3 linked regions of the Homo sapiens genome follow. The protein of the gene in region 2 interacts with the protein of the main gene of each other region in a pairwise test. Each region holds a gene or a part of one and is shown on either strand. Other genes may lie near its edges. The genes, in order: BTG3, CRYL1 and ABCC6.

Region 1 (2,904 bases), on a different chromosome or scaffold from region 2:
ACTGCAAATTTAAAGATGAAGGTGATGGAAAAAGTATTGCTGATCTTAGTTTTTAAAAATTTACCTTTGGAGAAAAATCAAAACTCTTATAGAGATATCTCTTTTTTTCTTTTTGTAGTTCAAGTACCCTTACAAGACTGATGGAATTACAGTTGTATAAATATGGACTACTGAAGAATCTGAAGTATTGTATTATTTGACTTTATTTTAGGCCTCTAGTAAAGACTTAAATGTTTTTTAAAAAAAGCACAAGGCACAGAGATTAGAGCAGCTGTAAGAACACATCTACTTTATGCAATGGCATTAGACATGTAAGTCAGATGTCATGTCAAAATTAGTACGAGCCAAATTCTTTGTTAAAAAACCCTATGTATAGTGACACTGATAGTTAAAAGATGTTTTATTATATTTTCAATAACTACCACTAACAAATTTTTAACTTTTCATATGCATATTCTGATATGTGGTCTTTTAGGAAAAGTATGGTTAATAGTTGATTTTTCAAAGGAAATTTTAAAATTCTTACGTTCTGTTTAATGTTTTTGCTATTTAGTTAAATACATTGAAGGGAAATACCCGTTCTTTTCCCCTTTTATGCACACAACAGAAACACGCGTTGTCATGCCTCAAACTATTTTTTATTTGCAACTACATGATTTCACACAATTCTCTTAAACAACGACATAAAATAGATTTCCTTGTATATAAATAACTTACATACGCTCCATAAAGTAAATTCTCAAAGGTGCTAGAACAAATCGTCCACTTCTACAGTGTTCTCGTATCCAACAGAGTTGATGCACAATATATAAATACTCAAGTCCAATATTAAAAACTTAGGCACTTGACTAACTTTAATAAAATTTCTCAAACTATATCAATATCTAAAGTGCATATATTTTTTAAGAAAGATTATTCTCAATAACTTCTATAAAAATAAGTTTGATGGTTTGGCCCATCTAACTTCACTACTATTAGTAAGAACTTTTAACTTTTAATGTGTAGTAAGGTTTATTCTACCTTTTTCTCAACATGACACCAACACAATCAAAAACGAAGTTAGTGAGGTGCTAACATGTGAGGATTAATCCAGTGATTCCGGTCACAATGCATTCCAGGAGGAGGTACCCATGTCACTGGAATTGGGCGATATGGTTTATTTTTTCTTCCCTGATTTGGATAACCAAATGGAACAGGAGGAGGATAGTGATTCTGATGGCCATTCCCTCGATACATTCCTGGCTTTTTTCTGGGCAAAGGGTGCCACATTGGAAGAGGTGGAAATATAAGTTCTGAAATCTGTAGGGAAGAGAACACATTAAGTTAATTCAAAGGAAAAAATCATCATCTATGTTCCAGATTTCTCATTAAAGACAAACAAAGTTACCCACAACACTGAGATCACATCTAAGTGACACTCCTATTGTCAGGTCTAAATACATTAAAAACCTCATGTGTAATAGGCGTATAATGTATAACAGGTGACCAATGTTTTCTGAATGCATAAAGAAATGAATAAACTCAAACACAGTACTTCCTAAACAACTTCAACCAAAAAAGACCAAAACATGGAACGAATGGAAGCTTGTAAGGACATGCTTGTTTTAGTCCAGTGGTTTCCACAGCTGGCTAAGCCAGGAGTCACTTGGAGGCTTTTAAATACAAAACATTGGAGCTGGAGGCCATTATCCTTAGCAAACTAATGCAGAAACAGAAAATCAACTACCGCATGTTCTCACTTATAAGTGGGAGGTAATGATAAGAACTTATGAACACAAAGAAGGAAACAATAGACATTGGAGTCTATTTGAGAGGGGAGGGTGGGAGAAGGAAAAGGAGCAGAAAAGATAACTATTGAGTACTGGGCTTCACACCTGGGTGATGAAATAATATGTACAACAAATCCCTGTGACACATGTTTACCTATGGAACAAACCTTCATGTGTATCCCTAAACCTAAAATAAAAGTTAAAAAAAAAAAAAGATAAACACAAAACATTCATGCCCTAGCACTGGTCTAATGAACAATAATAAAATCTCAGAACTAGAGGCCAGGTATTTTGACAAAGCTCCCCAGGTGATTCTGATGTAGCCAGTTTAGTATTTGGGAATAATAGTTTTAGATTATCCCATAAATCAGGTGGGCACGTCAGGTTCACATTATTCAAAGTGTTCTTATCAGCAGTTTTAGACCTCTCTGCTTAGAATGCCACATCTTCTTAAATTTCTGATTTTGCTGATCTCAAATCTGCATTTCTAAGTATAGGATTTTTTTAAAAAAATTATATTGTGTATAGCATTGCATTCATGATAGAAAATTCAAAAAGTACAAAAGGGTAAACTGTGGAAAGTCCCTCTTTTTTTATCTCACCCTTTATCTTCTTTATCTTAACCCTTCTCAAGGGCAACTGACACCAAACATTTTTTTAAATATACCTTTAGAGATATTCTATCCACATCTATACACACTTTAAAAATATATATGTATACTGGATTGTATCCTGCTTTTTACATTTCATAATAATACATTTCAGAAACATATCAATACATAAAGATCCTTCTCATTTTTCTACAGCTAGATAGTATAGCAATGACTATAAATTAAATGGTCTCCTAGTAATGGGACATTGAGGCTGTTTTCAGTCTCTTACTATTAAAAAAACAATGATACACAACGAACAAAACAATGCTGCAATGAATAACAGCACAGTTAATTCTAATAGAAGGCTTTATAGGCATATTTTCGTTTCTTTTGGTAAATATTTAATACTTAGGAGTGGAACTGCTGAGTAATAGAAGAGTTACACATTTAACGTTAAAAAGTTCCAGTTTTCCAAAGTAGTGGTACTATTTTACATGACTAGCAAGTTTATGAATCTAGCTGCTTCACATCCTTGCTAACAT
Region 2 (3,655 bases):
TGAAAAATTATAACACTGAGGGGTAAAAGCTGCCTCTGTGGGAAAATGCAGTGGGCCACATAGGTTATTATGTCTAATGCTATGAAAGGGCAGGAAGGAGAGAAGCCTGTCATCGTGTCCTGGTATCAGGTGACTGTAAGAAGAACCTCTCAGGCAGACAGTGAATCGCTGCATTTTATTTTGGTTCTAAAGCTGGCCCTTGGTCTCCAGAATAGAGCAAGAAGAAGCAAGCAGCCTCTGACTTTCCCAGCTTCCAGGCTGCCCAAGGAACAACTTTCACTGTCCTGCTCAACTTTGAGAGGGAGGGAAGAAGGAGGGAGAAAGGAAGGGAGGGAGGGAGAGAGGACGGGCACACACACCTCCACTAGCCGCCAGGCCTCGCTGATGATTGCATATTGCAGGCGGTTCAGAACGAAGCCGGCCACCTCCTTCTGGACTCGCATGGGGCACTGTCCAATCTTCTTCATCAGGGCGTGGGTTCTGTCCACTGTCGTAGGGGCCGTCTCCGGGTGGGGGACCAGCTCAACCAGCGGGATGTAGTATGGCGGATTCACCTTAGGAGAGAGAGAGAAGTGGGGGAGTCAAGGAGATGATCCTGGGTTTGGGGAACTGCACCCACCCTGAATGGTCAGGAGCAGCAGATGCATCTTTGGAATGGTGCCTTTAGATTCAGTGGCCAACAACAAGATACTTGAGAAAGAAATTTATTCACAAAGGAGAGAGAAAAAGGGAACCTGATGCAGAATTGTGTGGTTTTGTTTAAAAAAAAATACCCAAAATACAAAGTTGGAATTTGGAGGAACAGCTTGCTATCCTGTATGTTTATGGCTAATCTTCAAGCCCCTGGCCTCCCCAGGACAGAGTTTCTCTGCTCCCATCTGTCTTGTCTTCAAAGCTTCCTCCCAGCCCACCACCCCCCAGAATCATGTCTTCCCATCTGCAGTCACCACAGGCTCTGACATTCTTCTGTGTCAGTGTTAAAAATTATTGGCAAGCTGGGTGCGGTGGCTCACACCTGTAATCCCAGAACTTTGGGAGGTCGAGGTGGAGGGATCACTTGAGCCCAGGAGTTCAAGACCAGCCTAGGCAACACAGCGAGACCCTGTTTCTACAAAAAATAAAAAAATTAGCTAGGTGTGGTGTTGTGTACCTGTAGTCCCAGCTACTTGGAAGGCTGAAGTGGGAGAATCATTTAAGCCCAGGAAGTGGAGGCTGCAGTGAGCCATGATTGTGCCATTGTACTCCAGCCTAGGTGACAGTGCCAGATCATCTCAAAAATAAATTATTAGCAGTGTCTTCCCAAAACCTGGTATTTCCTTAATTCCTCCATATTGTACCTTAAGTGTCTGCCTCTTCCAGTCTAATGTCACCTTCCTGCTCTAGAAATCAACAGGCATCAACACACCTCAGCAGCCCCAGCACCCCGACGAGCCCAACACAGGAAGGCATTGTCCAGGTGAGCATGCCCCAAGGGAGGACCCTGGACTTCACTGTTCAACTCTGGTGTTCTTGGTTTACTTTGAGAAACTGTTCTTAGAGATTCCTCACAGAGAGTTATCAAATGTCCAAAGAAAACAGTGCCTGGTAGAACCTGACTGGCCTGAGCACTGAGCCAAGTATACCACAGCAAACAGAAATGATGCTTTTCAATGGGTTTTCCTCCACTACATGGGTGATAGGTAGAATGTCACATTTGCTAAGTGATGCTTCCATGAGCAGAAGCTTCCATTTAAAGATGACTCCCACAGAAGAGGAAAGGAGAAATAAGGGCCATCCTGGGCACCTGCTCTGCCCTCTCAGGAATCAAGAAAAGACGGCTCCTGTTTCCAAATAGACAGATGGTAAATCGATGCCTCGGTTAAACACCTGTCACCTACTGAATTCTTATAGAAACGCTTAACCTCTGACCTTTTGAAAAATGAAGATTAGAAGAACTGGAAGTGTGTCTTTCTCAGATGAATTTTACCTTATTTTATATAAAGCAGGCATGCTGGGATTGGGGTCTTTCAAACATTGTAAGCCTCACTGGTAGCAAAAACAGACTGAGACAAGGAGTTAGAAAGCATTTCTATGTACAACTCACCAGTTCCCTCCTCTCAGTCTTCTCTGCGATTTTTCCTGCTCACACTTTCACTGAGTGATGGTGACCCCCAGTCTGCCACAGTGGCCCATCTGTGCCCACTCCCTGGTGTCACCACCACCAAGACTTGAGGACACAGAATACACCTGCATGTCTCACACAGATCCCAGCCTCACCCTGGCCCACATCTGCAACTGAGTGCTGGACGCCTTCCCTTGGGCACACCCCAGCACAGACTTGTCTCATGTGGGTTATCCCCATGGTCCCCAACCCTGGCAGGCTCCTGATCTCAGTGAGAATGTGTCACATCCCCACACCCAAGTCAGTACCAGGAGAAATGTTCCTGGCCCCTGCCTCTCCCTAGCCCCTCTCACTTTCCATTGAGAGGTGAGGCCAGCTGGACTCCCTGGGTCAAGTGTGAACTTGGGGAGCTTTTCTGTCTTACAAAAGGATTGTAAAATGCACCAATCAGGAACTTTCCTGTCTTACAAGAGGATTGTAAAATACACCAATCAGCACTCTGTAAAACGCACCAATCAGTGCTCTGTAAAACACATCAATCGGGGCTCTGTAAAACGCACCAATCAGCACTCTGCAAAACGCACCAATCAGCGCTCTGTAAAATGCACCAATCAGCAGGATTCTAAAAGTAGCTAATCGGGGGAAGGATTGAAAAAAGGGAACTCTGATAGGACAGAAATGGAACAGGGGAGGGGCCAATTAGGGAAAAAAAGCTGGTCACTCCCCCCACCCACCCCTACCGCCCACCCACACCCACACGCGCCCCCCCACCCACACCCCTACACCCCCACCTGCAGCGTTAACCCACTCCGCTGTCTTTCCCTGCTGTGGAAGCTTTGTCCTTTTGCTCTTCACAATAAACCTTGCTACCACTTACTCTTTGGGTCCGTGCTATCCTTAAGAGCTGTTAACAATCACCACCAAGTCTGTGGTTCACGAAGTCAGCAAGACCACAACCCACCAAGACCAACTCCGGACACACCATCAGTTACTGAAGTCCTGTTACTTCTCTTTACTCTTCTCTCAAAAAAATCATTGCCACTGCCACCCTCAGCTCAGGGCCCCCGTTTCCATATATATTCTGCACTCCCTTCATGGGACTCCTGCTGGGGTCTCAGCCCCTCTATCTCATCCTCCCAGAGCAATCCGTGTTGTAGCGGGAGCCTATCAAATCCACAGCAGCAGCAGAAAGCTAGGTTCAGGTGCCGCGGCTGGGGTGGAGCTGTGGAAAGTTAGTGTTTCATGGGTAGGAGGTTCAGTCTTATAAGAGGAGAAAGTTCCATGGATTGTTGGTGGTGGTGGCTGCACACCAGTGAGAATGTCCTTAATGCCTCCAAACTGCACACTTACAAATAGTTAAGACGGTAGATTTTGTTATGTATATTTTACCACAATTATACATTTTAAAAGTAAAAAACAGGACTTTGATCATGCCTTCTCCAACGAAAAATCTTGAAGGGCTGCCCAGCGCCCACTGTACAAGGCACACGGCTGACTAGGACGCAGGGGCCAGCGACTGGGCCCCACGCAGCCCCCCAAAACAGACTTCCATTC
Region 3 (3,655 bases), on a different chromosome or scaffold from region 2:
CGAGATTGCATCACTGCATGCCAGCCTGTGCAACAGAGCAAGACTCTGTCTCCAAAACAAAACAAAAAACAAAACCACAAGTGGTGGGCTGGATTTGGCTTGGGGTCACAGTTTGCCAACCCCTGCCCAATCCATAGCTCCAGATGCATATATCCTGTTTCTTGGACATCTCTGTCCAGACCCCTTGGTGAGGCCCAGAGAGGGGAAGCAATTACACCAACATTACTCAGCAAGGCAGGGCAGAGTAAGACAGGAGTCTAGGTCTTCTCACTCTCAGTTGTCAGAGAGCTCCTCACTGCCAATCCCTGCCACAACTCCCTGCCTCTCTCTTTGTGTCTATTTCTGCTTATCAATTAGTGATTACGTATTGAGCACCTAGCACGTGCTTGACGCTGAGCTGAGCCCTTTTTCTCCGCTACTTCCCTAACCATTCCTCTCATTTCTCCATCATACTGCCCATGATGAGTCGGGGACCCAAATGACTCCCAACTGCAATGTCTCCCTGTCCCAAAAAGACCCCCAAACTCTCACCTGCTCCCCAATTGAAGTGTGGATTCCCTCAGGGAAGCTGTCCACATCTGGCTGCAGGGCACAGGCTTCTAGTACTCTCTCCAGCCAGGGTGGGTCCAGCTCCTGCCCGAAGCACACATTCTCTACCACAGAGGTGTTCTGCACCCAGGCCTCCTGGGGCACGTAGGCCACAGCACCCTAAAACACAACTTACTTTGGTCACAGGAGGATGATGGGGACAGAGGTGGGATAGGTTTTGAGGAGCAGTGGGAGCTGGGCTCTCAGTGGTGGGTGAGAGGTGGAGAGAATGAGTGAAAGTGAACTTGGCTGGGATGGGGAGGGTGGGAAGGCAGCGAGGAAGTGGGACTTTCAGGATGGGGACATCCTAGCAGACAGGCTGGGGGTGGCCTCACCTCGATGCTCACGAACCCCTCCACCTTTGACAGCTCCCCAAGGAGGGCGGACAGCAGGGAGGACTTCCCTGCCCCCACTGGACCGACAACAGCCAGCAGACAGCCCTGGGGCACCGTGAGGTTTATTCTGGACACGCAAGAGGGGAGACATGACCTTGGTTAGGGTTCAGCCCGCCTCTGTGAGGAAGGATGAGCCCCAGACGGAGCTGAGCTTTCCTGCTCTGGGAGTCTCCAAGAGGACCTGTGGGGCTGTTCTTTTTCCCAGTCCTTGTCTAGCTATTTGAGGAACTATCCTGTGCACATCTGTGCATGTACACATGCACACAAAGCGTGCACACATGCATGCACATTTGCACACTCATACAAGCATGCTAGCATGCACAGCAACACAATGTGGGCACGCATCCACACACACACAAGTGCATGCACATACCCAATCAATCCATGCTCACACGCATACATGTGTGCACACATGCACACCACGCACACACACACAGGGTTGACTATAGCCTGAGGGTTTCACCAGCCTGGCCTCCTGCCTTGGCTCTTGCGATAAATAGGCTCTTTCCTCCCTCCCTCCCGCTACTCTTGGTCCCGCCCCACTCCTGTCCACGTCCCACAGCCCATCCTCCACCCAGTGACCAGAGGGATCTGTTAAAACCCAAGTCAGATCGTGACACTTCCCAGCTAAACCCGCCAGCACTCCCATTTCACTCAGGGTCAAAGCTAAAGTCCTGACGATCAGGAATGACATCTCCCGCCTCCTTCCGCTCTGTGCCTCAGCTGCTCGGCCCTGGCCTTGCTGACCTCCTTGCTGTTTCTTGAACACAAAAGGCCAGTGGTTCTCACCAGGGGGTGACTGCATCCCCCAGGAGTCATTTGGCAAGATCTAGAGATATTTTTGGATGTCACAACCAGTAGGGGGTGCTGCTGGCATCTAGTGGGTAGAGACTGGGGTCAGCTAAACATCCCACAATGCACACGACAGCCCCCAACAAAGGAGTTTCAGCCCAAAATATCAACCGTGCTGAGGTTGAGAAACCCAGGTCCAGGCACTCTCCTGCCCCAGGACCTTTGCTGATGCCATTCCCACCGCCTAGAAGGTTCTTCTCCCAGGCCGGGCACGGTGGCTCATGCCTGTAATCCTAGTCCTTTGGGAACTGAGGCAGGTGGATCACTTGAGGTCAGGAGTTGGAGACCAGCCTGACGAACATGGTAAAACCCATCTCTACTAAAAATACAAAAATTAGCTGGGTGTGGTAGCATGCGCCTGTAATCCCAGCTACTCGGGAGGCTGAGGCAGGAGAATTGCTTGAATCCGGAAGGTGGAGGTTGCAGTGAGCCGAGATCATGCCATTGCACTCCAGCCCGCGTGATAGAGCAAGACTCCGTTTCAAAAAAAAAAAAAAAAAAAAAAAAAAAAAGAACAGCTCTTCTCCCAGACACTCCTTCCTTATGATCTCGGCTTGAATGCAAAGCCTTCCCTCGCTAGACATGCCATCGTACTCTGTTCCCTTGCTCTGGTTTTCTGTTTGGGCCTCACCTCTATCAGCATGTCACCCCACGAGAGCAGGGCCCTTGTCTGTTTCCTTCGCCCTATCCCCAATACCTAGAACAGAGCGTGGCCCATACCTAGTGCTCTATCGATGAAGTGAGTGAATGACAACCAATACAAATACTACCTGGGGCATATTCCTTCTCTTCTTAGGGAGTTTCAGGGCTGTCTGAGATTTTTGGCCACAAAGACCAAGCGATAGAGTTGGAGACTATAGATGATCATGACCTCGGACTGATACAGGAGGCACAGAAGTGAGCACAGCTGATAGGGCTGAACCTTGGGGCTCCTCTCAGCCAGCCCTCCCTTGGCATCGTCTTGGCCAGCCTGGGAGCACAGGGGTGTCTCCCCCTAATGGGGGAGGCTCAGATGCCCTGGTCCCCGTCTGCAGGAGATACTGGTCTATGCTGTGCAGGTCCCCACCTTCAGGAGGTAGAGATGTATCCTGAGAACCTCCCCGGCAGAGCCCCAGCCCAGCCAAACCCACCCTCCAGTCCCAGGCTGGAAACCTACACCACCTCTCAGGTGGGAGGCAGCAGGAGCCCCATGCATCTTCTCCCTAAAAACATGAGGCTGGTTACTACGGGTGTCGTTCTGTACCTGTGGAGGCAGGGAGGGCTTTCCTGGGACCAGGCGAAGGTGGCACTGTGTATGGTGATGCAATCCTTCCCGGCAGCTGCAGGGCACAAGAGGCCATTTACAGGAGACCCCTGACCTGGCCGGCCTCTGCATCGGAGAGGCCCCCAGGCACCATCCCCCGCCCCCCCCAGGGGCAGAGGCTGCAGGAAGAAATCTCTCCCACTGAACAAATTGCCCTGCTACTCACTGGCTTGTGGGTGACCCCGCAGGGTTCTTGTTCTGTCCGTGTCCCATGGCTACATAATCCAGGGGGAGGCAAACTGTGGCCCAGAGACCAAATCCTGCCTGCTGCCTTTTCTTATAAATAAAGTTTTATTGGAACACGGCCACATCCATTCATTTCTCTATTTCATGCTTTGAGCAGTTGTGACAGAGACTGTGTGGCCCACAGGCCTAAAATATGCACAATCTGGTCATTTATGGAAAAAGTTAGTGAATTTCTGAAATAAATTATCATCAAATCCCAGCCTTCCCAGAGTGAAGGGGGTGTTATTAATTTCACTGTGGCCGGCACAGTGTCTCATGCCTGTAATCCCAG

The links.
Region 1: the proteins of CRYL1 (region 2) and BTG3 interact in a two-hybrid assay, tested with the Homo sapiens proteins (one large-scale study listed by BioGRID and IntAct).
Region 3: the proteins of CRYL1 (region 2) and ABCC6 interact in a two-hybrid assay, tested with the Homo sapiens proteins (one large-scale study listed by BioGRID and IntAct).

The regions. Positions count from the first base shown.
Region 1 is NC_000021.9:17,593,034-17,595,937, forward strand, and holds the end of BTG3 (protein BTG3), read right to left. Parts: intron 1,300-2,904; coding exon 1,060-1,299; 3' UTR 620-1,059; downstream 1-619. UniProt on the Homo sapiens protein: Overexpression impairs serum-induced cell cycle progression from the G0/G1 to S phase.
Region 2 is NC_000013.11:20,431,743-20,435,397, forward strand, and holds part of CRYL1 (lambda-crystallin homolog), read right to left. Parts: intron 2,105-3,655; exon of another isoform or gene 2,036-2,104; intron 555-2,035; coding exon 360-554; intron 1-359. UniProt on the Homo sapiens protein: Has high L-gulonate 3-dehydrogenase activity. It also exhibits low dehydrogenase activity toward L-3-hydroxybutyrate (HBA) and L-threonate.
Region 3 is NC_000016.10:16,181,881-16,185,535, forward strand, and holds part of ABCC6 (ATP-binding cassette sub-family C member 6), read right to left. Parts: intron 3,155-3,655; coding exon 3,079-3,154; intron 1,051-3,078; coding exon 924-1,050; intron 709-923; coding exon 532-708; intron 1-531.